Homo sapiens: one gene and its partner. The protein of the gene in region 2 purifies or fractionates together with the protein of the main gene of each other region. This does not show direct contact. Each region holds a gene or a part of one and is shown on either strand. Other genes may lie near its edges. The genes, in order: HADHB and DIPK2A.

Region 1 (15,157 bases), on a different chromosome or scaffold from region 2:
AAAACCAATCAACGTCTGATTCCATTTTTGTTTATGTAAATAATTAATGCACAGGTGCAATTATAAAATACTTATTTTTATAATATTAAAGTTTTACTTTAGAAATAAAGCTTCCAGATTTCCTCCCACATACACACCCACACAATATTTACTATGAAATACTGGATCCCATTATAGGGAATTCATTTTTAGTATTCTTTCCCTGAAACTATTAATTATCCTCAGAACACACTCTCCTATAATTTAGTAAAATAAATGTTTCCAAAGTCTCAATTAGAAATTCAATGTCTCTTAACTGATTTTTACCTTTATACTTACTTACTTTTATGCTATTTACCATAATCTATAGAAACAGAAATGTGTTAGTGATGTAACTGCAACATGACCTCATTCTGGTCTTTCCAGGTAGGCCTGATACTAAATGCCCAACCTGCTTTGTTGAGAACTTCTGCCAGGCACCTGTGCATCAGCCTCTCAACGTAAACCAATCCGAAAGGAAGAGAGACGCAAGTATCTCAGGGGGGCAGGAGGGAAGAGCTCTGCAAAGGGCAAGTGTAAAAGGGGCACTTAGGTTGCAATGGCTCGATTCTCACAAGGGCCTTTCTAATTTGTGTTGCCCTTGGCCCTAGATGACTCTCAGGACGGAAGGAGCTTTAAATAGAGGTGGCTATTGGTGACCCTTGTCCACACACTTCTATTGAAATTTGAATAGCTCTCAGGGCACTAAGGGAAAAGGAGGAAGATGTCTTTAAGCTGGAGAACAGGGAAATATGCTGAACCTTTCAACAAAGTCAGGTTCATGAACACCAGGAGCCTTTTAGGACTGTATATTAACATTATTAATACAGGCAATAGGGCCTAAGAAACTCTTTGGCTGAAAATTATGTTAGCTTTTAGGTTGCAAGGACTGTATATTAACATTATTAATACAGGCAATAGGGCCTAAGAAATTCTTTGGCTGGAAATTATGTTAGCTTTTAGGTTGCAATACAGCTTTAGAGTGACATTCTCATAATGTATCCCCCTCAACCCAATCTCTCCCTGCAGATGCTGCAAAAATTACCTGGAGCACAACATAACTGGTATTAGTACAGGGCAGGCAGAGGGAATCTACCTCCTGTCAATCAATAGCTGAGATCTGCAAATGGATGTAAAATTTCCAGGAAAAATTTCAGAGGAAAACATTATGGCTTTAGTTTTAGGAAAAAAAGAACTGAATTACAGAGAAAATGGAAACATTTATTTTTATTTATTTATTTTTTTATTTTTTGAGGAGGAGGAGAAGGAAGAAAGGATGGGATAAAAAGCTGAGCAAGAGGAGAAAACAGCAAAAAAATTTACTATTTACATCTTAAGTGCTCTTATAAAAGTAATAGGTTATTTTCAGAATATAAAAGTTGAAAATGTATTATGAGCAGCTTGATGTACTCATGAAATTATCATATTTGAAACATTCAGAAATGTCAAGGTTCAAGGAAAAACAAAAAATTTCAGAAGGGAAATAAAATCTCTTCCTATTGTTAATTCCTTCCTGCCCCTCAACAGCACACAGTTAGTTTCGTAGGCTTCAGTCATGCCAGGCCTTTGGCAGTTCTAACATTTCTGCCAGGTACAGAGGTGGAACAGAACAAATACTTTCAGTCCTGCTCATGTGCCCTTGTCTCTCAGTTGACAGTGATACTGAACCCAACAATATGGCAAGCACAGACCAGAACTAGGGAAAATACTGAGTACAATGAAATGTGCTTTTGGTGCCAACTTCATCCAATCGATTTTAAATGAAAACACAGCCCAGAAGACGTGTTTGGATTTGCCTGTAGGACACATCCTAGAAGTTCCAAGGCCTGTCATTATCTTGGTTGCCCAATCGACACTACATGGAGCTATGCCAACTAGGGCAAAAGTAAACTCCTGTGAAATAGTTTTTAAAAAGCCAAGCTGCCTTACGTGCCATCTAGTTGATGGGAACAAATGAGTAAGCAAGGCTACTTCCAGCTAACAAAAGTCAAGTTATGAAATTAGTTCTCTGCAACATGTTGAAATTTTAAATTAATTGGAAGCCATGATATCTAACATTACTAAAAATACTATCAGCCACACTTTGCTGATCTCTATTTTCCTAACACAAGAGACAATGTCCTAAACCAGCTCAAATAATTTATTTGATTTACAGTAAAGTATGGATATACACTAATATAGTGTATGTCATTTGATTTATATTAGAATTCTTTTACATATTAAATAACACATTACCCAAGCTGTAAAATCACATTTTAGGTCAAATGTAACTCAATAGATTTTAAAGGCTTTTGTAAAGTAACTTCTATTAATTGAAATTCAAAGTGATTCTCCTATCACTCTTTAAACAACATAAAGTTTGTTTTACTCACCTCTCTAGCCACATTGCTTGTTTTCACTTCCTGAATAACTGTACCAAAGATGATATAATCAACTACTTCCTTAGGGACACTGGTCCGATGCAACAAACCCCTGGAAGTAGAAATCCAAAGCAAAGAAACATTTCACACATCAAGGCAGTGCCAGAGATCATCACACAAAACACTGCGCTCCTTGAAAAAGGTTAGCCTTGAATTTAAAAGGACAGAGACTGTATCTTTTCTTTAATTTGACAAGCATTTGGCACCTTCTCAAAGAAGAAATGAATGAAAGAGTGATTTTAAAAGTCAACATTTGATGCTGAATTGGTAATGAGAAGTTAGAGAATAAAAAATAATTTGGAATAGAATAAAATAGATAAGAAACCTATAAATTAATGTTAATTAATGTTAGTAGAAACCAAAGTTTGCAGTGAAAAAGAGAGACAAATATTCAATCAAAGAGATAAAGCAAAGTCTCCCTTAAGACTATTAAAAAAAATTAAAAAAAAAGAAGTCCTGGGTATGTTAAATTTTAGTTTGAAATATCAGTATCAACAAATGATTGAAATAATACATATATTCTAGTTGTGCCCATGAATAGAAACTAGACACAATAACACTCCAGTAGGAATGAGCACTCCCTGAACCCAGACTTGGTTTCCTTTTTTTTTTTTTGAGATAAGAATCTTGCCCTTTCACCCAGGCTGGATGGAGTGTACTGGCACAATCTCGGCTCACTGCAACCTCCACCTCCTGGGTTTAAGTGGTTCTCTCACCTCAGCCTCCTGAGTAGCTGGGGCTACAAGCGCCTGCCATGATGCCTGGCTTATTTTTGTATTTTTAGTAGAAACAGGGTTCACCATGTTAGCCAGGCTGGTCTCGGACTCCTGACTGCAAGTGATCCACCAGCCTTGGCCTCCCAAAGTGCTGGGATTATAGGTGTAAGCCACTATACCCGGCCCCAGATTTGGTTTCTAAATGCCATTCCCCATTAAAAGGACAAAAGGTTTTTTAAGAAATGACTGATACCAGGTCCAGAAGAAAGTACAAAGTGAATTTCCATCTTTTTTGTGCCAAAAGTAAGGAAGCACTCAAAGACAAATGGGACCATATCAGCCGGGCACAGTGGTTTAAGCCTGTAATCCTAGCACTTTGGGAGGCCGAGGCAGGCGGATCACTTGAGGACAGGAGTTCGAGACCAGCCTGGCTAACACAGCAAAACCCCGTCTCTACTAAAAATACAAAAAAAATTAGCCAAGACTGGTGGCATGTGCCTGTAATTCCAGCTACTCGGAAGGCTGAGGCAGGAGAATTGCTTGAACCTGGGAGGCGGAGGCTGCAGTGAGCCGAGATCGTGCCACTGCACTCCAATTTGCGCAACAAGAGCGAAACTCTGTGTCAAAAAAAAAAAAAAAAGACAAATGGGACCATATCAAAAACAGGAACACGGGGTATATACATTTGTCAAAACTCATCAAACTATACACTTAAAATCTGTGCACTTTATTGCATGCAAATTATATATCAACAACCAGCATTATACTAAAAAACAAAAGGCACACAGGAGCCAACTTGAAGGAGTGCCAGATAAAATGTGGAATAAGCTGAGCTTCAAAATGAGTAATGACTAAACTTGGCTACAATGAAATAAATAAATAAAAATCTGTAAAATCTGTAGTTTTTTATCAATTAAAAAAACTAAAAAGAGGGTTAGAAACATTGGCTTACGCCTATAGTCCCAGTTACCTGGGAGGCTTCGAGGTTGCAGTGAGCTATGATCAAGCAACTGCACTCCAGCCTTGGACAGAGTGAGACTCCATACAGAAAAAAATAAATTAAAAATTTAAAAAAAATTTTTTTTTTGAGACAAAGTCTTGCTCGATTGCCCTGCCTGGAGTCTAGTAGTGGAATCATAGCTCACTGCAACCTTCAACTCCTGAGCTGAATTCTCTTGGTTGGCTAATTTTTAAAATTTTTTTTTGTAGAGATGGAGTCTTACTATGTTGCTTAGGCTGGTCTCAAACTCCTGGGCTCAAAAGATCCTCCTACCTTGATCCTCCTGCCTTGGTTTCCTAAAGTGCTGGGATTATAGGTGTAAGACACCATGCCTAGCTAGTAGATGAGATTTTTAAAGGAAAATATGCATACAGAGAAATGCAAAGCTCTAAGGAATGAAACTTGCAAAACACCTTTCAAAAAGAGAAAGAGGGAGAGATCCAGTTGTGTGTGTGTGTGGTTTTTTATTTTTATTTTTTGAGACGGAGTTTTGCTCTTGTTGCCCAGGCTGGAGTGCAATGGCGTGATCTCGGCTCACTGCAACCTCTGCCTCCCAGGTTCAAGGGATTCTCCTGCCTCAGCCTTCCAAGTAGCTGGCATTACAGGCATGTGCTACTACGCCCAGCTAATTTTGTATTTTTAGTAGAGATGGGGTTTCTCCATGTTGGTCAGGCTGGTCTTGAACTCCCGACCTCAGGTGATCTGCCCACCTCAGCCTCCCAAAGTGCTGGGATTACAGGAGTGAGCCACCGTGCTTGGCCCAGTTTTTTTTTTTTAAGCTAGAGAAGAATCGGCCGGGCGCAGTGGCTCACACCTGTAAGCCCAGCACTTTGGGAGGCCGAGGAGGGCGGATCACGAGGTCAGGAGATCGACACCATCCTGGCTAACACAGTGAAACCCCGTCTCTACTAAAAATACAAAAAAAAAAAAGAAAAAAAAAATTAGCCGGGCATGGTGGCAGGCGCCTGTAGTCCCAGGTACTCGGGAGGCTGAGGCAGGAGAATGGCGTGAACCCGGCAGGCAGAGCTTGCAGTGAGCCGAAATCACGCCACTGCACTCCAGCCTGGGTGACAGAGCGAGACTCCGTCTCAAAAAAAAAAAAAAAAAAGCTACAGAAGAATCAGTCAGGATACAGAAGAAAAAGAAAAATCATAAAGGCATATTACTAAGAAGTCAACAGAAGAGAGGTGATTATAGCTTACAGTGTCAAGTGCTATAAAGTACAGAGACAGAGGACTGAGAAAGGATCAGTACATTGAGCAATCATAAAACCATTATTAAGAGAAGATTCTAAAGTATGGTTTCTGTAAAACAAAGGGAAAATGGAAATAATGATTATACAATTAGACAGAGGAAACTAATAATAAGGAAACAGAAACAACTGCTCTTTCACTCATGCTTGAGGTATTGCAGGAAGAAAAAAAAAACAAACATAGAGTTAGAATGGACAGAAAGGTCAACTGAAGGGTTTCTCCAAACTAAGAAAGAACTGTGGCTGGTTGAAGACACAAAGGCAAAGTGTCAGTGGAAAATGAAGAGATAATGCCTTACATGTTATGAAACAGCAACACATTTAATGATTCTCAACCAAATTATTCATCCAGCCTAATCTTATTTAACTACATCTAATTTTACATTTTTACTTGGTTTGCACATGAATCTTCAGGTGTCTTTTAGGCTTCTTTCTAGGTAAATATCTACATAATCTGTTCAGCTACCCTTATACAAGTTCCTAAGGCAATCATCAAATATATGTATTGTGTTTAGGCTGATCAATCGAGTCCTGTGGCTAGCTAAGGTAGCATTAAAGTATACTGTCAGGCTAAGACACTGTTAGGCCTGCAAAATAAAGATTGACAATATTCATAAGCTGCTTAAATTTGTATAGTACAGATGGCTAAAATAAGAACAAATTGCTATTTTATGTGTAAAAACTGGAGAAAGTGCCTTTAATGAAATAAGAACGGAAATGAAACTGCATTTACTTACGTAAGCGCTGCTCTAGCCAAATCATGTGGCATCAGGTCTTTATATCTGGGGAACGAAAACCAGTAATTTAAACCAAAACCCTAGAGCTTCAATGAAAAATTTTCATTCTATTTGAAATACCCAGAGATCATCAAACACATGCTGCTACAAACACACTTAACTTTACTATCCAAGGCAGTCCATCATTTCAAATGAAGAAATAGTGTGACTTCGCTATTTGTCATCCTTAAAAGTCTAGCAAGCCTTAACTCCTCCTGAGCTTGCTAAGAATCGAACAAAAATGTTGTCCAACACCTTAATGTTCAGTATAACATATGCTAAATTTTCTTTAAAGTGAAGCCCCACCTTTGAGGTCTCTTTTCCTTTAAACATTTTATTTTAAAAGTATATTATTTATTTATTTTGTAATGCCTACAGGGCTACAGGTGATGTATTAGGACTTTTGAAGAAACTTTTTGCTTTTAAGTAACTTGAGATTTACCAAAGAATTGGAAAGAGGCCAAGCATGGTGGCTCACACCTAGAATCCCAACATTTTGGGAGGCTGAGGTGATATGACTACTTGAGGCCAGGAGTTCAAGACCAGCCTGGGTAACAGAGCAAGCAAGACCTTGTCTCTTACAAAAAATATTAAAAATTAGCCAGGCGTGGTGGCATGGATCTGTAGTCCTAGCTACTTGGGAGGCTGAGGTGAGAAGACTGCTTAAGGCCATGAATTTGAGGCTGCTAGGATCACACCACTGCACTCCAGTCTGGGCAGCAGAGCAAGACCCTGTGTAAATACATAAATAAGAATTGGAAAAAGAGAGCAGAGTTCCTCTTTCCCCCTGCTGTTTTTTTTTTTTTTTTAAGACGGAGGTTCGCTCTTGTTGCCCAGGCTGAAGTGCAATGGCGCAATCTCAGCTCACTGCAACCTCCACCTCCAGGGTTCAAGCAATTCTCCTGCCTCAGCTTCCCGAATAGCTGGGATTACGGGCACCCACCACCACGCCCAGCTGATTTTTTTGTATTTTTAGTAGAGATGGGATTTCACCATGTTGGCCACGCTGGTCCTGAACTCCTGACCTCAGGTGATTTGCCCGCCTTGGCCTCCCAAAGTGCTGGGATTACAGACGTGAGTCACCGCGCCCAGCCTTCCCCTGCTTTTTCTAATACTGACATCTTACATAACCATGATATACTTATTAAAACTAAGAAATGAACATTGGCACAATACTATTCACTAAGCTACTACCTATCTGAGTCTCACCAGTTGTTCCACTAATGTCCTTTTTCTGTTCCAAGATTCAATCCAAGATACCATGTTGCATTTAGTTGTCATGCCTCCTCAGTCTCCTCCAATTTGTGACAGTTTCTCAGTCTTCCTTGTCTTTCATGACCTTGACACTTTTGAAGACTGGGGTTATGGATTTAGGGGAAGAATATCACAGAGGTAAACTGTATTTCTCTTAGCTTCGTATCAGGGGGCACATGATATCAACATGACTTACTACCAGTGATGTTAAAGTGATGATTTGGGTCAAGTGATGTCTGCCAGTTTACTCCACTATAAAGTTACTATTTTTTCCTTTCTTATCTCAATTTGTTAGAAGTGAGTCACTAAGTCTAGCCCACATTCTGAGGGGAGAATTAAGTTCCACCTTCCAGTGGCAGGAATAACACAGACTTTGCGGACGTATGTCGAAATCATCATAGTAATTGATAAATATTTTGGGGGAGATTCTCTGAGACTATGCAAATATTCTGTTTCTTCTTAGCATTTCACCTAATTTTAGCATTCATTTGTAGATCTCGCAGCAAGTATTATGTGGTATTCTAATGGTTATTTTTCTCATTCTTTATTTATTTTTATTTTTTGAGATAGGGTCTCACTCTGTCACTCAGACTGGAATGCAGTGGTGCAATCACAGGTCACTGCAGCCTCAAACTCATGGGCTCAAGCAATCTTCCCACTTCGGCCTCCCTTGTAGGTAGGACTACCGGTGTCTGCTACCACACCCAGCTAATTTTTCATTTTTAGTTTTTGCAGAGATGGAGTCTCACTTTGTCCATGCCGGTCTCGAACTCCTGGCCTCAAGCAATCCTCCTACCTCAGCCTCCCAAAGTGCTGGGATTACATGTGTGAACCACTGTACACAGTCCTCCTATATTTATTAATCAAAATTCTTCTGTAAGGAAGACTTGTTCATTCTTTCTCATTTATTTACTCTTTTTTTTTTTTTTTTTTGAGACAGAGTCTCACTCTGTTGCCCAGGCTGGAGTGCAGTGGCACGATGTCGGCTCACCGCAACCTCTGCCTCCCGGGTTCAATCGATTCTCCTGCCTCAGCCTCCTGAGTAGCTGGGATTATAGGCGCCTGCCACCAAATCCAGCTAATTTTTGTATTTTTAGTAGAGAAGGGGTTTCACCATGTTGGCCAGGCTGGTCTCGAACTCCTGACCTCAAGCGATCCATTCACCTTGGCCTCCCAATGTGTATTTATTTATTCACTTATTTATATCAGATTAGACTCGTAGGCATTTGTTTTATTCTTTGGGTTATGTTCCAATACTATTGCAATTTATTTTATTGCTCAAATCATTGCAGTTTTGGTGACCGGTAGCTCCTGCAGGTCAGACCTGTGTCTTTTTGACATGACCCCCTGAACCCCTCTTTTTTTTAAGTACTTCTTTGCTTTCCGGCACTACAAGTTCTCCTTGCTCATCCTGTCTTTTCTCTGGCTCAGCCCTAATCATTCTTCAAAGGAGCTCTGGTTCTTTGTATTGAAGACTGCTATTTAGAAACCAAGATCTGGGTATGAACTCTATTTATTTGTTTGTTTGTTTAAAGATCAAAAATAAATTCTCTTTATTTTTAAGTCAGAGATTTAATCATTGGATTAAATAAGAAGATTCATTCTTCAAGTCCCTGAAAATTAAAACTTAAAAACTCCAAAATATTTTTACTGTCATTTTCACTCAGAATCACAGGAGAACCATGAGTAGTTTTCCAAATTTTTCATAGGTAAATCCAGTTTCCTCAAATTTAGGACAGAATTATTTGGGGAAAAGTCATGTGTCAATTTGAAAATGCCTAAGCCATAAATTATTTATCATTTACAATCCTTTTTTTTTTTTTTTTTTTTTTTGAGAGAGAGTGTCTCACTCCATCACCAAGGCTGGAGGGCTGGAGTGCAGTGGTGCAACGTGCTTCCTGGGCTCAAGATAGTCTCCCACCTCAGCCTCCCAAGTAGCTGGGATTACAGGTGCACGCCACCATGCCTGGCTAATTTTTGTATTTTTAGTAGAGATAGGGTCTCGCCATGTTGGCCAGGCTGGTCTCAAACACCTGACCTCAGGTGATCCGCCCGCCTCAGCCTCCCAAAGTGCTGGGATTACAGACGTGAGCCACTGCGCCCAGCCAACTTATCATTTACAATCTTTATTCTCATACTCTCACACTCCTCTACCTGAATGATTGACAGACTTCTGAATTCCACTGCTAGAGTCTATTCCCGGGAGTGCTTCCCAAATGCCCCTACCCATAAGAACCTGGCCTTCCAAATAACACTCAAGTTGAAAGCAACGTTTCTGCAAATTAAACAGAAAAAGACTTTTTCCACTTAGAAAATGATCTTCTATTACAGAAGACTCATTTGGTACTTCAATCCTAACATCAATAATGTAAAAATTGTTGTCCTTATACATTTTCCCTCTATGTTATTATTATTAATTTTTTTTTAAGAGACAAGGTCTGGCTCTGTCACCCAGGTTGAAGTGCAATAGCATAGCTCATATACGTTCATAGCCCACTGCAGCCTCAAACTCCTAGGCTTAAGCAATCCTCCCGCCCCAGCCTCCCAAGTAGCTAGGACTAGGGGCATGCACCACCATGCCTGGCTAATTAAAACACCTTTTTTTTTTTCTTTTTTTTGTAGAGATAGGACTGGGAGGTAGGGGGTGAGGAGGCGTTGGGGATAGGTGTCTAGTTATGTTGCTCATATGTTGCTCAAGCCAGTCTCAAACTCCTGGCCTTGAATGATCCTCCCGCCTCCGCCTCCCAAAGCGCTGGAATTATAGGTGTGAGCCACTGCACCTGGCCTCTAATGTTATTTTTTAGTGACTTTTGTTCTTTACATGAATATTGCCTTAAAATACTTTTGATTCTTTCTTCCCTATTCACTATCATTTCTTACATTACTCAATGTTTTTCTCTTCTCTGTACCACTAGATTGCTCATGAACCAGAATCCTGAATTAAACTAAAACACAATACACAACAAAGAAAGGAACAACCCTATGCCAATTTGGTAAATACCTCAAATTAAACTTCATGCAAATACTAATCATCAAATGTTTAATAAAAGTAAATGAAACAGTTGAGTATGTTTGGGTGTTTTGTTGTTGTTGTTGTTGTTGTTGTTTTGAGATGGAGTTTTGCTCTGTCACCCAGGCTGGAGTACAGTGGCACAATCTCAGCTCATCACAACCTCCACCTCCCAGGTTCAAGTGATTCTCCTGCCTCAGCCTCCCAAGTAGCTGGGACTACAGGCATGCACCACCACACCTAGCTAATTTTTGTATTTTTAGTAGAGATGGGGTTTTGCCATATTGGCCGGGCTGGTCTCAAACTCCTAACCTCAGGTGATCCACCTGCCTTGGCCTCCCAAAGTGTTGGGATTACAGGTGTGAGCCACTGAACCTGGCCTGTTTGTATTTTTTAACAGCTAGTAAAACAGTATCAAACACCTACATAATATATAATGATCCTTACAAAAAAAGTCTTCCTAGCCAAGAACTTTCATGTCTTGATGGAACTTTTTCTATTTTATTGCTGCTGAGTAAAAGGAGGACATCATCTTCTTCCTGCTGCTAAAGCCTTCTGATTCTTACTTTTACTGTTGTGTCAGTACAGGAAAGAGATTATAGAAACATCGTTAAGTGGATTACTATATTGATAAAATAGGATGAATAAAGAAACGTCACTACCATTTACTTATAGCATTACTTCTTCTTCTTTTTTTTTTTTTTTGAAACAGGGTCTCGCTGTGTTGCCCAGGCTGGAGTACAGTGGCATGATCTTGGCTCACTGCAACCTCCACCTCTTGGGTTCATGAGATTCTCATGCCTTAGTGTCTCGAGTAGCTGGGACTAGAGGTGCATACCACTACACCCAGCTAATTTTTGTATTTAGTAGAGACAGGGTTTTGCCATGAACTCCTGGCCTCAAGTGATCCACCCACCTTAGCCTTCCAAAGTGCTGGGATTACAGGCATGAGCCACGTGCCTGGCCAACATATAGCATTACTTCTGTAAGAAAATATATTTGTAGGTCCCAAACCATCTGTTTAAAAATGAACCTTTGTTGTGTGTGTATACACACATACACACACACATGTGTATCTTTCATAAGTCATTGCACACTATACACAATACTGTGCACCTTGCTTTTTTTTTTTTTTTTTTTTGAGATGGAGTCTTGCTCTGTCACCCAGGCTGGAGTATAGGTAGTAGCATGATCACGGCTCACTGCAGCCTTGACCTCCCAGGCTCAAGTGATCCTCCCACCTCAGCCTCCTGAGTAGCTGGGACTACAGGTATGTACCACCATGCCCAGCTAATATTTTTTATTTTCTGCAGAGACAAGGTCTTGCTATGTTACCCAGGCTGGTCTTGAACTCCTGGGCTCAAGTAATCCTCTTGCCTTGGCCTCCCAAAGTGCTGGGATTACAGGTGTGAGCCACTGCACCCAGCCTGAACCTTGCTTTTTATACTTAACATATCTTCAAGATCTTAGGTCTTCCATATTAGTATATAAAGATAGGTCTCATTCTTTTTAACAGATGCCTAACATTCCGCAGCATTTTTTTAAAGCTGGCAACTACCTATTCAAAATATAAACATTAAAACAATCTAAACAGAATAGAATGAACAGTTTAAACCTTGTTATCAAAGTCCATTATCAGCTTTTGGATAGACTAACCTTCACTCGGGGACAGAAAAGAAGCACAAAAGGCCAAGGAGAAGAGCAATTTGGATCTAGGGAATTCTGGAGCTGGTCTAGGACCATTCTGGTCCCACACACTTGGGGTTGTGCTATGCTGGGGGTTTGGACCAGCCCTATCAACTCCAATTTTAATAATTTCCAGGAGGCCAAACCAGTGGATTATATAGGCCCTTCAGAATGCCCATGGCCCACATCTTCAGCACTCAAACTTCTGAGGAGAAACAGGGACAATGTACTTGTCTCCAGAAAAGGAAAGGACAGCTCTGTTGGAAGCAAGCTATCTGGACCTCTAGGTTTTCAAAATAGAGCTGTTTCAAGTAAAACTACGCTAGACTTATTCATGAGAAGGATAAAAAACAAATGTTGCCATATTATTTCACCACTGTCTTGACTTATTCTATATTAATTTCATGGGACTGCTATCCAAATATTAGTCCACTAACAATATTATTACCTACTGGGTTACATTTACAAAGACTACTTTTGAAAGTGTCTTAAAAGAAGGAAAAAAATAATATGATCATGTCATACTTACGAAGTGCCAGACAGCAAAAATGGAGTGCGAACACCATCCACCACCACAACATTCCTTATATTGGGTTTGGCTAACGTCTTCTTCGTTTTGGTCTGGACAGCTTTAAGATAAAGTTTAAAAACAAAAACTACTAATTAAAATATATAAAGTCTGATGACTTTTACTTTTTTTTTTTTTTTTTAAGATGGAGTCTCGCTCTGTCACCCAGGCTGGAGTGCAATGGCGTGATCTCGGCTCACTGCAACCTCTGCCTCCCGGATTCAAGCAATTCTCCTGCCTCAACCTCCTGAGTAGCTGGGATTACAGGCACCTGCCATCATGCCCAGCTAATTTTTGTATTTTTGTAGAGATGGGGTTTCACCATGTTGGCCAGACTGGTCTCAAACTCCTGACCTCAGGTGATCTGCCCGCCTCAGCCTCCCAAACTGCTGGGATTACAGATGTGAGCTACCGTGCCTGGCCTACTTTTACATTTTTTAAGATAGTCATTCTAAGAATTATTACATCATTAATGCCAACTTGCATTTGCCATTTACTAAACCACTTTAATTTTTTTTTAAAAAAAGGCTAAGAAATTGACTAGCATTTGTAAGTTTCTAAATAATATTTAAGATAAACAAAGCTTATATCCAATGATGAGGGAATTTATGCCATTAACAAAATAGTTCATTTTTACTAAGTGTTTGACAACCTATTTCATTAGAAGTAACCAAATTTACACGCAAATCTACCCTTAATATTAGAAGTTGCAATGATTGATATTGTTCACTCTTCACATAGCTTGATGTTCTTACCTTTTCTACGTGGAAATAAGGGGCACTTGGTTGGTGACTTGCTATTCTGCAAAAATCTACATGCCTAAATACTTTTTAATCTCAAAAAAGCAAACTTCCTTTAGGTTTCTTAAATTAAAGAATAAAATATAAATGTGTGCCTATGGTTTTTTTTAAAAAGTAAATAATACTGAACTATGGAGAGTAAAAACTAAAGTTCCCTCTTTATGCCTTCGCCTACCACACTATTTTCTTCTAAGAGGTAAAGTCTGTTTATTTGGTGTATATACTTTCAAATCGTTTCTTTTAGTGCACTTACATGCATATACTTGTATATTATGTATATTTTATTGGCTTAACAATATAGCTCGAAGAACATTCCATGTTAGTATATCAAAATCTAGTTCATTATTTTCTTGTTTTTGTTAATGTTGGAATTTACCTACTCTATCATTATTCCTTATCAAAGATAGAAAAAAATCCTAAATTATTGGGAATACAATGTCAACAACGACCTTACCACACCTGTTAATGTCACAGAGAAGTATTTATAGTAAACATCTACAACCAACTTTAAAGAAATATTAGTGAGAGTTAATAGTCATGATAAAATAGGGCATAAAGATGACGCTGGCAGCATTCATGGAGAAGTGCTGCTGGTGAAGGAGATAAAGGCAACAAGGAGGTAAGCAAAGAGACTGTGGCAAACCCAAGCATGTGGCACAAAAGGCCAGGATAAAGGCAGTATCAACATGAGTAAAGAGGAAGTTTATAAAAGAAAACAAGGTATGTTGGCAACCAATCAGATATAGAAAGAAAGGAAAGAGGAAAACAGGATTATAAAGGAATCTTAGAGACTAAGAATACCTAGCTACCCGAAACAAAGTGAGAACTGGTTTTGGAAAAAAAAGGGGACTTAATTTTTTTTTTTTGAGATGATGCCTTGCTCTGTCGCCAAGGCTGGAGTGCTGTGGCACGATCTCGGCTAACTGCAACCTCCACTTCCCAGGTTCAAGCAATTCTCCTGCCTCAGCCTCCCAAGCAGTTGGGATTACAGGCACACGACACCACACCTGGCTAGTTTTTATATTTTTAGTAAAGATGGGGTTTTACCTTGTTTGCCAGGCTGGTCTTGAACTCCTGACCTCAAGTGATCCGCCAGCCTTGGCTTCCCAAAGTGTTGGGATTACCGGCATAAGGCACTGCGCCTGGCCTCATTTTTAAACTCGCTAACTTTGAGGTGACAGAGAGACAACCAGGTGGATATGTTAATTCCACAGTTAGCTAGAAGATGCAAAGCAAAACCTCTGAAGAGAAATGAGTGTAGATTAGAAAGTCATGAAATATTGAAGCTTAGAATACAGAAGGAAAGCAGAGATGTATTCTGCAATGCCTGTTCTCCCACAGCCCCCTCTATTTCTTTTATTTTTAAATTTCCTATTTCCTCTTTAACAATAAAAGATACTTTTTTTGTTTGTCTGGATGGGGGGGGGGTATTTGTTGTGTTGTTGTTGTTTTGGACATCCCACAGGCCCCTCTAAAGGGAGTTGCCCTGCTTACAGTCCCTGCCAAAGGGGAAGCCATAGACACATCCCTAAGTCAATATAAAAGCTGATTAGATTCAGAGTAGGTACTGGACTCACCAATGATCCATCCATATAGGAGCCAACCAGAAACCAGTGTCATCTACCTACAAGTGATCAACTGTGTTGGTCAGATTCTC
Region 2 (15,519 bases):
GAGATCACGCCACTGCACTCCGGCCTGGATGACAGAGACTCCATCAAAATAAAGACAGACAGACACATAAGAAAGAAAAGAAAGAAAGAGCTAACTTAAGTTTTAAAATTATTTTTTAAAGCCCAAATTTGAATGAAATCCCATTGTAGTAACGCATGTTATAACAGCTGTTCATAAAGATTAGTCAACTGTACTGGTGACAGACTAATGTGTTCACAGTTTGGTGAACTGTCTGGAGGGGAGATATAGTAAAATTACGGGGATGATTTAATGGTTACTGAATTTTTGCTAAAATTTCTCTAAGATCTTAGCTTCTTAATTTATACTGCTAAATAGCAGCCAAAATCCATTGCAAATACTGTAGAAGCTTAACAATTTCAAGATTTTTAAGTCCTAGCATATGTCCCATTTATTTCATGAAATAATTTTCTGAATGCCATTTTCCACCCACCTCAAATTCCAACAATATTAAACAATGCCTTGAAAATAGTAAGGTTGTGTTATTTTACTGAATATCATGTCCAACAGCTGTATCTAAAATTGGAAACTGATGTCAAAACACATTTTAAAAACTAAATTTAATAGAAATAGATTATCTTTTAGAATAAATTGCTTAAGAAATGCTGCCCCCACCAAAAAAAAACACAAAACAAAAAACACTTCACTTGTTCACAAGTTTTAAATATGCATAAGTTTACTAGTCTCAACTGACCCTTACTGTGTCCCAGGGGTATATACAGATCAGTTCCTGGCACTATTGACCAATTCCACATAATTACTGTCAGATCTTTTCATTTCAGAGTTAACCCCCAAAAAAGCATTAGAAAGAAAAAATACGAAGACACTGAAGCATCATACTTACTTCAGATTACAAATCTTTTAAGATTCTGTCTCAGAGTCTAAGGTCTAGACTTAACCTGTTTTTTTGTACTACCATTTACCAATGTACTAAATAGAATTACTAAACTATAATAATGATTTACAGAGAAAAAAAGAAACTATTTGCCTTTTACTTCTTAATCCTTATCTAAACCGTCTTTCCTACCATATTCATTCTATTCATTACACTTCATATGAGACAAATCCCTAATCCCCTTTTAAACTACTATTTTTAAAAAACTATAGCCTGAATAGGTACATATGATTTACGTATATGTAAGGACAGTGACATTTGAATGTCTGCAATAAGAAAAGTAGGATTTTTACATTTCTAAGACAGACATCAGCATAATGTACTAAAGAACTTTTAACTACTATAGCTGTCTAAAAATGGAATAAGCTGATTTTCAAAGAAATAATACACTGTAAAAAGCTTTACAACTGAAAACATTTAACAGATATTACTTGAATAATCCTTTCTTCTTTAATCTTTAAAACAATCCTGTTAGGTAAGTATTAACAACCCCATTTTACTGATTAAAAAAACTTAGAATCGGAAACATTAAGTGACTTGCTCAATACCATCCAACAACTTTGTGGTAATACAGAATGTGAAATGGATGCTCTATCAATACTGCCCCCTCCACCCTTCCTCCCACTCTCCACCCCCATCTATTGGCAAAATCTCTGAAACTTTCCCTGGTACCATTCCTATCAATATACAATGAGATGTCCCTCCCTGAGTCATGTGACAGTATATATATATATATATATAGATATATATATATCTATATATAGATATATATATATATATATAGATATATATATATATATAGATATAGATATATATATATAGATAGATAGATAGATATAGATACCTTTTGTACAGGGCTTATTAAATGGATTGTATAATAATTAGTTATTTGTGTACCTACCTCCTACATAGTAAGCTACTTGTTTCCTACGGCCATCTTTCCATCCTTTCAATCCAAATGCCTTGTAACAGATTGTAAAATGAACAGACAAATTCAGTTCTTTTGGTTATAAATTCAAAGAGCTCTCAAGAATTTCACAGACAACTTCCTATCACCTTATACTAACCTCACCTTACACTAATAATTTTCAGTCATGTTACAACCATTTACTAAAGTTCATCAAATGTATTAGAAAAATGCAGGATTTAAATTATAAGGCCATAATTTAACATATGGGTAATGAGTGAAAGCTGAAGAAAGAAAAAAATAGCATTCTGTGAAGAGTCAGCAGCAATGACAGAAAAATAGGAAGTAAGCCAGAGCCCACAAACCAAAAAAACAGAATAAAAACCAGTCTGACAATCCCCTGAGAAGCTGGACACCCATGTCCAGAAGACCTATAAAAACAAGCTTTCTATTTCCCAACATGTGTGAGAATATGTGCTAACCTATGCAATGGAAATATAAAGAATAGTTCAAAGACTAGACAAAAGTATACAAAGGACAAAATTCAAAATGGTCAAAAGATATGGATATGTCCAGAAACTAGTCCAGGATGTCAAATGACTTTGCTCTACTGATTCTGAAGTGATGCTTTCTTAAGGGCGATTGTCTGTTTCTAGGGTCTTTCTAAAATAAAAGTCCCCACCCCCTTTTTGGACTTGAGGTATCCAAAATTGTTTTATTATTTTTGTTTGATTATCTTGAAGAGCAATCAAAAGTGTCAATGGACTCTCAGATGAAAAGCCACAAAAAGTTCAAAAACTTACAAAATTTATTAGATTAAAAACTGCTCTACTAAGAACCATCTCTAATGTGTTCTGAAGCCGAAATCTAGGAAGACAGTTACTAAAGAAACAGCCAGTAAAGGAGAAGTAGGTGGTTCCTTAAACTGTTGTTTGAAAAGAAACTCCTGAAACAAAGTCTGGAACATCGTTTTGCACACTATTGCCTCACAAGATCCTTGGCTACCCTTAACTCCACATATTTCCCCTTAAAGGAAGGTTTTGGTTTTTGTTTTATTTCATGTGTGTAAAAATTTGGGGGTAGGAAGAAAGGCTTGAAAGAGAGCATCCCACTCCCAATCCCCTTTCAGAAGAGCTTAATTAAACCCACTCGTTAAAGTTCAAAAGAAAACAACAACAACAACAACAACAATAAAAACCAAATTTCTCAAGAGTTTGAAAGCCCCAGAATGTTGGAGCTGAAAAGGATCTAATCCAATAGCTTCATTTTATAAAGAAGGAAGTGAGTCCAATAGTAAAAATCTATCAACTTTTCTAAAGTACCGTTAGCTAAATAATCTTTTGTTTACTTCAAAAACTACATTTTCACCAGTGAACTTAAAAAATATGTTGTTCCCTATATAAATTACTTTTAAAGGCAAAAACAACATTCACTGAAAGTTTTCTACAAAAAATTATATCAAAGTAATAATGGAAAAAAATCAGTATAACTAAAGTATGGTTGATATTCAAAATCACCATTATTTTTAAGGTGATCCATACCCCAAATGAGCTTCAAAACAGCTGATCAAATGCACCAGGCAGTTAAAGTTACCTTTACTTTATTCAATATCTAACATTTATTGAATGCTTACAATTTACCAGATACTACGTGAAGTGCTTTGCATGTATTATATCATTTATAAGAATAGAAAAGCAAGCTTAAAAACCATAGCTTAATGATAGTCATATACTATAAAAATAAAGTAAATCCTATTAAAACCATGATTCAGAAAATTTAAGGCAAATGAAGTTCCACAAATAGTAACATTCCCAGCTCGTCCCCCTAAACAACAAAGAGCTTTCTCCATTTCCTACAAACAAGACCATCTTCACTACTTCCAGGTTATAAAGTCAGAGATTCTGTCTGAACTTCAACAAATCCAGACAGCATCTCTCTCTCTCTCTCTCTCTCTCTCTCTCACACACACACACACACACACACACTCTCCCTTTCTGTAAATTCAATAGGTTAAATACAAATACGATGGAAAATTTATCAACAATAACTTGTGATCTTGCCAATTACTTCAACAACTCAATTTTTGAATACTTCAAGATTCCTATTTACACAATATAAAAGTCAACATAGTTCCTCTCCTCCATTTTTTTTTTCATAGGATTACAGTATACCTGGCACTAAAATACACACATCTTAGTGAAGTAAAAATGTGACGACGAGGAAAGGGTATCAGAGTAGAAGATAAAGGTACTACTAGCATTATCTTGTTGCTTGATGTTTATAAACATTTTTTAGAAGATAATAATTCTATGGGTAAACTGTTGTAAACTAGTGAAACTATCCAACAATAAGAAGAAAGCCATACTCTCATGCCATTTCATATGGGGAAATTTATATCACAAATCTTTACAGCCTTACATAGATAAGGTATGTGTGTAAACATCTTAGACACTTAATGTCTTTCACCTCTCCTTTCAAGGAATAATAGCAACTTCAATTTTTTACTGTTTTTTCAAATCAGAAGAGGTGAGTTTAATGGATTAAATTCGTAAGTATTTTTCAGTTCTTAAACACCTTATCAAAAGAAATTTTTACATGCTTATTTTGAAGCATGCTTACGATACTGGAAGTTTTGTTAAGAATACTTGGATGAAGTCAGTTCAAAGACTTTTTTTTCCCTGAAGTTGTTAATTTTTGGACAATATAAGAAAAATCTAGTTTGTCACCAGCTGTCCAAAAATTCGACAAGTAGCTCCCTCTCCTGGAGGAAAAAAGTGAGTTCCTCTTCAAGCTGTTAAAACACTTGTACTCTTAAAAATATATTTTTTAATACATGAAGCAATAGACAGCCAAATCTGAGTTTTTCTGTATCAATTAATATCCCAGTATTACTGTAAACAGCTATAAACAGTTTTATAAAAACCTGTATAAATACTAAAAATGTAGTTTCCTAGCTAACAAAGGTAATGAACATCATGGTTTGACTTACTGTACAGCAACTTTTGTACTTGATCACAGAATGTTGAGATACCTTTCATTTTGGTGGTTTTATACAATCATCAAACCTCAAGTATATTGTTCAGACTTGTAAATTCACTAGCTTTTTCCAAAGATCAAGTGATTCTACAAAGAAAGCAGCGGCTCTCTGAAAACTCTTACTTAAAAATATCTTCTTCCTCTACTTGCTTGTTAATCAGGTTTTAAAAAAATTACATGCCTATATGACTGGCTGGTACTAAAGACCCCAAAATTATATTACACAGTATGTACTCAGCTATAATTATAATACATATATTAGTATTAGTACTATTCCTGGGAACTGGGTTGTGTAAATTAAAAATGTAATTTACAAACCTCACTCTAAAACGTGGAGACATGTTTCATCACATACTAAAAACAAATTCTTATCCTATGGCCCATGTGTTTACCCACTCAAAGTAGCTGTGTCATTATGTGTCATATATAAGAAAATAATTGTGCTTTTTCAAAAAAGGCTGTTTCATCACTAAAGATGAGAACAGATAAAGAGTAAGTTTGAGGGAAAAGTTAAACAGAAAACAAGATACACGCACACTTGACTATCTCAACTACAAAGTAAACTGAGAATGCCATGAGAAGTTCAAACTTAAAAAAATATAAAACCTTCCTGCACAAAGCACAAATTTACCTTAGTGTAAATCAGATGCCAAAGTTTCTCAAATTCAATGCTATGACTACACTTAAAAAGAACTGGCCACATAATGTTCTTAAAATATCAATTCTACTGTTAGTTGTTACTAATACATCACTATTCAAAATTACCTAAAAAAAAAAAATCTTTCGGTAGGGACGCCAGCATTTTAAGTACAGTAAATGTATATTACTAAGACAGCTCCTTGCTAAATTTCTGGGTCTCAGAGAATTTGTCCGGGTATCTACTTCAGCAAAATGCTAACACGATCTCCAAGAACCAACCTTGCTAATACAAACAAGGTTCTCTTTTAAAGATAGCTTAATGAGAAACTTCAGTTCAAGTGTATGTACATCATAAATACAGGCTAAACCTTTAGAGACTGACTAGTTTGGGAACTACTGAATAAAGAAAATTTCTTCAAGGAAAGTTTAACCAGTTTTATGCATCCATTCAGTTAGGTGATACAGCAGTATTTAAAACACACTCTGACTTTAAAATTAACCCAATACACATAGCCTCTGATGTCCTAAAATTTACTAAGACCCACACTAAAGTTTCATCTGAAGCCAAATATTTGTGTTACATTATTTGGCTGAACTAATCAAACGAAGCTGGTTTCTTTTAAAGCTAAAATGGGCAGTGTAGAGCTTGAGAAAAGAAAATAATATAAAGAAATCTGCACTTTCCTATTCATGCATTTTAGAAAAATAAAAAAAAAAAAAACCCTGTACCTCCAGCCCTCAGTGACAGCAACCCAGAAAGAATGTGAAGTATACCAAAATTACTTGTGAACTTTTAAGTCATTTTTTTCTCTTGTCATGGAAAGGAGCACGGTAACTTTTCCTGCAGACAGAAGGAGAAACCACAACCCCACAGTTGTAATCACTGTTCAAGGACACCGCACTGAAGCTGGGTGGGAATGTGCAGAAACAAGCAAATACTCCGAAAGTAAACAGTGTTTTTGTTTTTTGTTCTCTTTTTGATGTCACCAGTAAAGATTCCATCCTATTCCCCTAAAAGGCACATTACTTTTCAAAACAGTCAGACGAGAGCAAACAACGCAACTGGCGAAAGGCAAGAATCTCCTTCCCTGATACTCGCCCTGGCCTAATATTTCATCTCCCTTCAACTAGATTACCAGATGAATAGGGCAGGTCACAGGATCAGGATGAAAACGTCTGTCTGGCCTTAAGCCCTCCCAGCCCCAAGTCCAACGCTGCCTTACTTTTCCTGTTTCTGATTCTAATCCCACCCAAAGCTCGGCTCACAGATTAAACCCACCCCGACCACTGTCCCGTTCTCCGACTTCATCCTCCCCAACTTGTCCTCGAATTAGGTGTCCAAATGACTGCCAGGTAAATGAGCGAAAACAAAGACTCTGAGACCGAAGTTAGGCCAGCCACCAGCGCCAGAAAAGGAAGAGCGAACGCGGTGTAGAACACTTCAGAAGAACTAGGAAAGGTCCAAGGGCTCGTGAACAGTCTGCGCCGCGGACCTGCAAGCCCCGGCAGATAAAAGCAGAAAGGCAGGGTAGAGAGCGGAAGGAAACTCGCAGTAGAGACATTTTGGGGAGTGTTAAGAGACGCACTCCCTCTGGCGTTGAAAGATCCACAGTCAAATCCGAAATGCGCCCGAATCTAGGTAACAAGAGCAGACTCTCCATCAGCGGGGTCGCCCTCGGCCTCCCTGCACAGCCCCGGGGCTCCCCCGGAGACGCCCCTTCCCACGCCTGCAGCCTGGCCCAGCCCGGCCGAGTCCGAACTGGCGGCAAGCGCTGGCTGAGCCACTTCTCCCGACTCTGATTCCCACGCGCGGCCCCTCCCAGGACGCCCCCTGCCCTGGCTCCGCGCCTACCTGTAGCACCAGCGGCTCGGGGTTGAAGGCCAGGGTCAGCAGCAGCTGCATGCGCTCCGAGTCCTTGAGGTTGCGAAGCAGGAAGCTGCCCGAGTCCTTGGTCTCCGCGTAGCGGCGCACCAGGCGGTCGAGAAGGCGCTGCGAGGGGCAGTGCACCAGGTCCGACCAGCCCTCCACCGCCTCGGGCGTGAGCAGACGCACGTCGCCGTTGAGGCGCGCGAACTCGGTCCGGGGCATGGCCTGCAGCAGGTCGCAGCGGGGCCGGCCGGTGGCCCGCTTGCAGATGCTCTGGTCGAGCTGCGCCAGCTCGCGCTGCGAGCCGAGGCGCTTGAGCACCACTCGGCGGCGGCCGCCCTCGCGGGGCTCGCCGTACTGCGCGAAGTACACGTTCTTCACGTTGAGGAAGTCCAGCAGGCGCAAGCGGCCCCACGCCTCGAATACCACCTGCCCGTTGAGGAAGCGGCGGCACCAGCTCGTGCCGAAGCACGCCGGGCACTTATTGAGCTGCAGGAAGCGCCGGTCGGTCAGTTCGTTGCGCTGCCAAGAGGCGAGCAGCGACGGCGAGTGCAGCACCATCAGCACCAACAGGCTGCCCAGCGCCGCCAGCTTCAGCGAGCGGGACAGGCGGCCCAGCTTCGGGGGCACCAGGCGCCACATACCGCCCGCCCGCCCGCAACGGGAGGGCGAGGGCACCCCCGGGGCGCCCCCGCCGCGCCAAGACCCGGAGAGCTACCGGCAGGAACCCCGGGCGAGAGAAGGAGCTAGCGCGCGGGCTGGGGCGGAGGGCGGAGTAGGTGTGTGAGAGAGGAAGACGGGGAGCGGGAAGGCGCGGGCCTGAGCGGGCTGCGACTTCTCCCAGTCACTAGTCTCCACAACTCTCGAGCTCCCTCCTCCTAGCTCCCCGCCCTCCGACTCCGGCGGCGCCTCCTCCACGCCAGCCAAGTTATAGAGGAGCGGGAGGGGGAGGGAGCGCGGGGACCCGACGGTCGCGCGCCCGTGCCCGCGCGCACGCGCACTGCTGGCTTCGCACAAGAGCTGCGGCGGCAGCCAGCCACGACAAGTGGGGTCTGCGAGGAAAGGAGGGACTCACGGAAGGGGAAGAGGAGCTAGGATGTCTCACACCCACAAGCAGCAACGCACGTCTCAGAGCCGCACACCCTTGCTTGTGCGCGCTGGCTCTCCTGAGACCAAGAAGGGGAGCCGGGGGCGGGGCCAGAGGGGCGGAGCGAGCGCGTCGCGCGCCGCCCGGAAAGCGTAAGCGGGAGCTCGCGGGAGCGGGTGTGGGGGCGGTTCAGAGAGGGGGAAGCTCGGGCTCTTGAGGTGGGGGCATGAACTCGCGGTTTCTGGTTTCAGAAAGAGTCTTAATTACAGTCATCTTTTATGATTATTGTGGTTTACTGGTGCGTTCCTTTCACTATTGTGGAAACGGCCCTTTAAGGGAGGAGGGAATAAGAAGAAATGAACTGAGGAAGTCTATTGCAAATCCTTCCCTCTGGACGGCGCGCGAGGCGGAGGCAGAGCTGGCGCGATTGCCTCCCCTCGCCTTATATGGGTTGGGTGCGCGCCTGGGGGGTGGGGCGAGGCCGGGGAGTGCCCGACGGGGGCTTGTGTTCCCCTCAGCTCGTGCTCCTCGCGGTAGGGGGTGGGGCCTGTGAGGAAGACGGTGAGAAAGGCTCGAGTAGTGGCGGGTTTGTTGGAGCTTCATCTTTGGGGTTGTATCTGTAAAATCATTTAAAATTTTCTTGAGTGAGCACAAAATAAAGTTCTCAAGCCACCGTGTTAAAGGGAAAATAGGATGAAGGGGAACCGACGCGGCCTGGTGTCGCCAGGACGTCTGCCCCAAGCGCCGCGAAGAAGCCGGGAAGAGTTTGCCAGGCTTGCCTCTGCTGCCCGCCGGCTGCCCTAGCCCGTCCCCGGAGCCCTGCGGTTCCTCTCCGCAAAGCTGATTTCCCGGTGCCGCCCCTGAGGGTCCCTGAGGAGCGGGCCGCGAAGCGTTGCCCTGGCGGTAGCCATGGGGACCCGGGGCTGCTTGGTGCTCCGCACGGTCACGTTGACTCAGTCACCCCAGACTGCAAAAGTAAGGCGCAGATGCCGCACGAAAGCACTGTGTTTAGGGATAAGTTTCAGGGGACCCGGACTGTTTAGCAGTAGCGCTAGTAGATACATTATTATGCTATTCACTTTTAGTGCTAGAGTAGTTAAAATGAGAAGTGATTTTTAGTCTGAGGGACAGGTGGTTCCTGATACGTTATTAAACAACTGAGTCTTAACTGAGTTAATTTTAGGGCTTGAACAGTGCTTTTAGAAGACCATGGTAACTGGCATGTGTAGATCAACTCTACAGCGGGTTAATAAGAAACATCTATACCAGGTTATCAAAAGTAACAATACTTTCAGTATTGTTTAATTGTAACAGGTATTTGTTACAAATTCTTATAAGAACTCAGATTTTGAAAAAAAAACTTTGAGAAATTTAATAAATTCAAAATAGACGTGATTTTGTAACGATTTGCATTGAATACGGACAGACAAATTGAAATAATATTCAAAGCTTTCTAGAAATTGACTTACTGTACTTAAGTTTGGCTACTTCTGCCTAGTGCCTTATGCCGCCTTTGGTGGGAATTTTATTTAACTTGCTTTCAAATATCCCCAAACTCCATATAATATAGAGTTAAAAGCTCAAGTGAGATTTTCTTAGGAAAAGGAGTTTGGTGTGATGGTTCTGGAGACCTGTGCTGTAGTTCAGCTGTGAGGCTGCTGCTGCTGCTGAATTGTAAACAAAGCAAGTTATTACTTAACTACAAATTTCTTCTTTCTGACATCTTTTCTATATGCCTCATAAATTTGTTCGATTAATAGTAGACAATCTATTTAGAATTGGTTTAAAACAATAAAAGTACTACATAAGTTGCCATTAAACTGATTAAGCTGAGAGAACCGGGGCATAGTGAGACTATTTAGGTAACTAGTAACAGGATTAAGGAGGTACCTGTACTGCTTCTTTGTATCGAATAGGTCTTTGGAGTTCTTAAACTATTCTCAGCCTCCAGATGCTTGGAATTGTATAGGCATCATTTGAAACATGGAAATAAAACACGGTTACTAGTCTACACAATTTGAATTTTGAAAAACATTTGCTCTGCATCTAAGTAGTTTACATTTGTTTAAAAGCTCTGATCTTTTCAGTTAAATTTTCTAGATGTTTATCAGGAGAGATAGTTTTCAAGAACTTAATACATTCATCAAAAGGAAAAAAGTCTTAGAACTATACAAGATAAACATATAGTGTTCCAAAGTGCCATATTAAGGTTTGCAAAATATCTCTTAATTGGGGCCAGGCACGGTGGCTCACCCCCGTAATCCCAGCACTTTGGGAGGCCGAGGCAGGCGGATCACGAGGTCAGGAGATCAAGACCATCCTGGCCAACACGGTGAAACCCTGTCTCTACTAAAAATACAAAAATTAGCCAGGCATGGCGGCGCACGCCTGTAGTCCCACCTACTCGGGAGGCTGAGGCTGGAGAATTGCTTGAACCCAGGAAGCGGAGGCTGCAGTGAGCCGAGATGGCGCCACTGCACTCCAGCCTTGGCGACAGAGCAAAAACTCCGTTTCCAAAAAAAAAAACTCTAAGTGAAGGTTAATGTGCATTACTCACCTTTCCTATAAACTACAGGATGCTTTCAACCAGTGGATCATTTAAAGTTCTTGACCATTATTTTAAGTAATGGCAAATAATGTAATTTCCAGTGCATTGTAAAATGTCATTTTACAGTAACTATCACTGTTTTAAATATTATCAGATGGAATTAAATACCATAGTAGTTTGATACTAACATCCATTTTGATAGTCAAAGTTTTACATTGTATTACTATTCTATTCTCTACTGCAGTGGTTCTCAGCAAGGGACTGTTGCCTCCCAGGGGCCAGTTGGCAATGTCTGGAGACATTTTTGATTTCATAAACTAGGGAGTGGGGTACTACTGTTGTCTAGTGGGAACATGCCAAGGATGCTGCAAAATATCCTACATTGCAAAAGACAACCCCCAACAACAAGAAATTAACCCACTCAACATCTCAATAGTGTGCTGTTGAGAAACCCTGACTAACAAGAATTCTATATAGTACGGTTTTAGGCATAAGCCTTATTGGTTATCCTTTCCTGCAGCAAAAAATATGTGTATACCGTTGTCCCTTGAACAACACAGGTTTGAATTGTACTCATACATAGATTTTTTTCAACCAAATGAGGATCAAAAATATAGTATATGCTGTATATGAAACCCAAGGACAGCTGACTTTTACTGTAAGCAGGTTCTGCAGGACTAGCTGCAGAACTTGTGTATGAGAGGATTTTGGTATACCGGGGGTCCTGGAACCAATCCCAGGTATATACCAACAGACAACTGTATTTAAATTTTGTGTATATCCTGTGATCATAATCTCCTAAATGCTAACATAGGAATTTTTTGTATGATTACAACTATAATTAGTGTTCAGCTGATCAAAATAACAAATATCCCAATTTGAATAAATATAAAAAGTAACATTTTATTGAAATGTATTTCTTAATTAGCTTGGGCATTTTTTTAAAATTAGGTTTCCATGAACAAATATTATTTATTGCTAGAATCAGACGAAGTCTAACATCAGTTTTCTCTCTTCTTCGCTTTTAGAGATGTAAGGGCCAAAACATCTTCATTTATGTTTAAAAATAAAAAGAATGTTTATATAGCAATTTCATTCATTTCTTTTTATTCCTTTTGACTAGAATCATTTACCGATAGTGATCTATCATCAGAATATTCTGAATGACATACCAATTAGGTTTTCCAAGTTAGTTGGATTTAGAAGCAAAGCATTGGAAGCCCATCCTGGAAAATGATTTTTTTACTTGGGTATTAGAATTATTTTATCATATTGACTATATTCAGTGCTCTGGCAGTCATGTCCTGAGACAGTGCACTATAGTAAGATTCAGGGTGGATAAGAGGTATTCGTTTTGTAAAGTCCAAAAAGATAATTTCCTGTATACTAAAGAACCCAGAACAGTGTCTGGTTTAAGTGGTTTGTTCCAGTAGTAGGTGGATTAACAATTGAAGGAATAAACACTTTCAGTATTATTGTAATAATCCAAACTAGAAATGATGGGTATTAGCTGGTTAAAAAAAAAAAAAAAAAAAAGCTAGCACATTCTGGATATATTGTGAACGTAGAGCTAACAAAGTTTACTCAAGATTTTAATGTGAGAGAAAGGCAAGCATCAGGTATTATGGCATGGTTTTTGTCTTAAACTATTGTAAGAATTACCATTTGTCTAAGCCCTTTGGGGCTGCTGGAACAAAAATATCTTAGACTAGTGGCTTATAAACAACAGAAATTTCTTTCTCACAGTTTTGGGGGCAAGTCCATGATCAAAGTGCTTGCAAATTTTGTGTTGGGTGTTTTCCTCATTCATAAATGTTTCTGCTGTGTCTTCGCATGGCAGAAGGGACAAGGGAATCACTCTGGGGTCTCTTTTATAAGAATACAAGTCACCTCCCAAAGGACCCACCTCCAGATACCATCACATTGAGGATTAGGGCTCAACATATGAATTATGGCACAAGGGGGTGGGGGTGCAACTGACACAACCATTCAGATCCTAGCACCATGTACTGAGATGAGGGAGACTGAGAGGAAAAGGATGAGGAAGATGCAAGTACAGTTCACGTGTCCATATTCTTCAGTGTCCATTTATGTTTCAATTACCTGATTTATGTGTGTTAGGAGAGGTACCTTAAGGACCAGTTTTGTTAAAGGGTTTTTTTTTTAATCTGTTTAGCATTTTAACCGAATTTTTAAAACATCTTATTGTATTTTAAATCCATAACTCTCTACATAGGTATTTTCTAGGACAGATTCTGTATCAAACAGTTGGCTTCATTGGTTGTAAAAATAGAATTGTCAAACATACATACTAAAACCATGATTTTGCTTGAAATAATTGAATCACATAATTTTCTGACCTTGTCAGAATAATACAAATTAGCCCAAATGCAACTGTAACATTATAATTCATGATTTATATTAATTCAAAATATTATGCAGTGTTATAGTTTTCCACATTGACTAGGTTAATAGAGAGGCACATTTTCCTTTTGCTCAGTACATTTTTAAAACTTGTTTTTTTCCAGTTTGTTTCAGCACAGAACACAATATTTACAAATATTTAAAAAATTAACACATCACTGAGAGGGGACTTATGTACCCACTTGTTAAGATCTTTTGAAAATTAAGTCATGTATGTAGGTATAAATTAACATTACAATAGTCTATTTTAAAGATTGGCATGCATTCTAACAGTGTGGTTTATTTAGTTCCAACCATGTACAAGATTCTGGGTGTGTGGTTTCTCAGAGTCCAGTGGAGGAGGCAGATACATGCATACCAACATTCATTACATGTTTGTGACAAATAGATAAAATAAATATTAAAAGAGCACAAACAAAAAATTCCTGTAGCTATAGATGTTATATTTGCACTTATATGACTCCCCTCAGGAGAATAGGCTGTGTACACTAGGAGAATTTTGCTGCTGCTTTGTCAACTGTTTTTCTCTCAAGCCTCACATCCTAAGTCTCCTACCTTTCCTCATTCTGACTTGTGCAAATGGTGTTCCTGCCACCTCTATGGATGATGGAGGCTACACAGCTCTTCTCTCTGGGCAAGCATGCCAGAGATCTTGGAGAACAGCAACTGCCTGTTCAGAGCAAAAGCATTCATCCGGATAACAAAAGTGCCACCTTCTTTCTGACTCAGTTTTCTTTACCAGGCTCCTTTTGTAGAAACCACTTGTATAGGTAAAAGACCTGCTATAGTCTTCAATCTAATGGCCGTGCCAGTTTTAAAGGTCAGCCACAGCTGGGAGAGAGAGGCCAGGTAAGTGTTACACTTGGGTATCAAATATAATGTGTATTTAATGTTCAAAATGATATAGTCCAGAAATGTCCATTTTGTTTTCTTCTTACAAAAGGACTTATAAAACTCTATAGGCAAATAATTAAGATATCTAATTTTGGGGAACTAACTATAGAGATGTCTTATTATCCAGTGTAGTCTAATCAAGGAGTATGGCCAGTAGAATTATGGGTTCACCCAAGAGAGTCTCCATCTTTGAACTATAATTGATACACTGGTCTATCTGATTTGACACATCATCACCTTCTCCTCTGTCCTTTGCAGCTTCATGCCTTTCTGTAGATTGATATCCAGGACATTTTTCTTTTATATTTGGGAAATGGTAAAGTTCTAATTATTTTTTGACAAATCAGGAATTAAAATTTAAATTACATCAAATGAAATAGAAATATGACATACTGTTTTGTTATAATTAGGTTTCCTTGAAGAATTTGCCTGCTACTTAGAAAATAAAACTTGAAAAATTATAAATAAGTGAAATATATTTTGTGCTGATTTAATCATAAGATAACCAGACCATAAGAACTTGTTGGCAAACTGAAAGTAACAATTTAATGGATTAAACTAGGATATCATGATATATTTAATTATTCTAAGATAAAGTGACCCCTAATTGCAGTCATCAGTATGCAGGTTAAATAAATACAGTTATTGGAGTTCTAAAAGGAATGTTAAACTCTGTAAAAATCATTACATCATTCGATAGTTAACGTGTATGTCTATCCATTTTTTTGGAATGTATCATCCTACCAAAATGACTACCAATGAATTGCATTTTTACATTGTTTTTCCACATAACACTGGAAATAGATTGCAAAGGACATTTCAGGGAAAATTCTAAGAAAATAATTATTTTAAAAATTACTTTCCTCCAGTCATGGTGCCTGATGCCTATAATCCCAGCTCTTTGGGAGGCCAAAGCAGGCAGATCACTTGAGCCCAGGAGTTTAAGACCAGCCTGGGCAATGTGATGAAACCCTGTCTCAACAATAAATACACACACACACACACTCACACACACACACTAGCCAGGCATGATGGCGCGCACCAGTAGTCCCAGCAACTTGGGAGGTTGAGATGGGAGGATCACTTGAGCTCAGGAGGTCGAGACTGCAAGTGAGCCATGTTCCTACCACCGTACTCTAGGTGACAGAGCAAGACCCTACCTCAAAGAAAAAATTACTTTCAGATTCCACAGATTTTTCTAAGT

What was found.
Region 1: the proteins of DIPK2A (region 2) and HADHB purify together in Homo sapiens (co-immunoprecipitation; 2 studies listed by IntAct). This does not show direct contact.

What each region holds. Positions count from the first base shown.
Region 1 is NC_000002.12:26,260,984-26,276,140, reverse strand, and holds part of HADHB (trifunctional enzyme subunit beta, mitochondrial isoform 1 precursor), read right to left. Parts: exon of another isoform or gene 15,121-15,157; coding exon of another isoform or gene 15,078-15,120; intron 12,762-15,077; coding exon 12,662-12,761; intron 6,189-12,661; coding exon 6,144-6,188; intron 2,491-6,143; coding exon 2,391-2,490; intron 1-2,390. UniProt on the Homo sapiens protein: Mitochondrial trifunctional enzyme catalyzes the last three of the four reactions of the mitochondrial beta-oxidation pathway.
Region 2 is NC_000003.12:143,964,818-143,980,336, reverse strand, and holds the start of DIPK2A (divergent protein kinase domain 2A isoform a precursor), read right to left. Parts: upstream 8,515-15,519; 5' UTR 8,005-8,514; coding exon 7,348-8,004; intron 7,257-7,347; exon of another isoform or gene 6,805-7,256; coding exon of another isoform or gene 6,775-6,804; intron 1-6,774. UniProt on the Homo sapiens protein: May play a role in cardiomyocyte proliferation through paracrine signaling and activation of the PPI3K-AKT-CDK7 signaling cascade.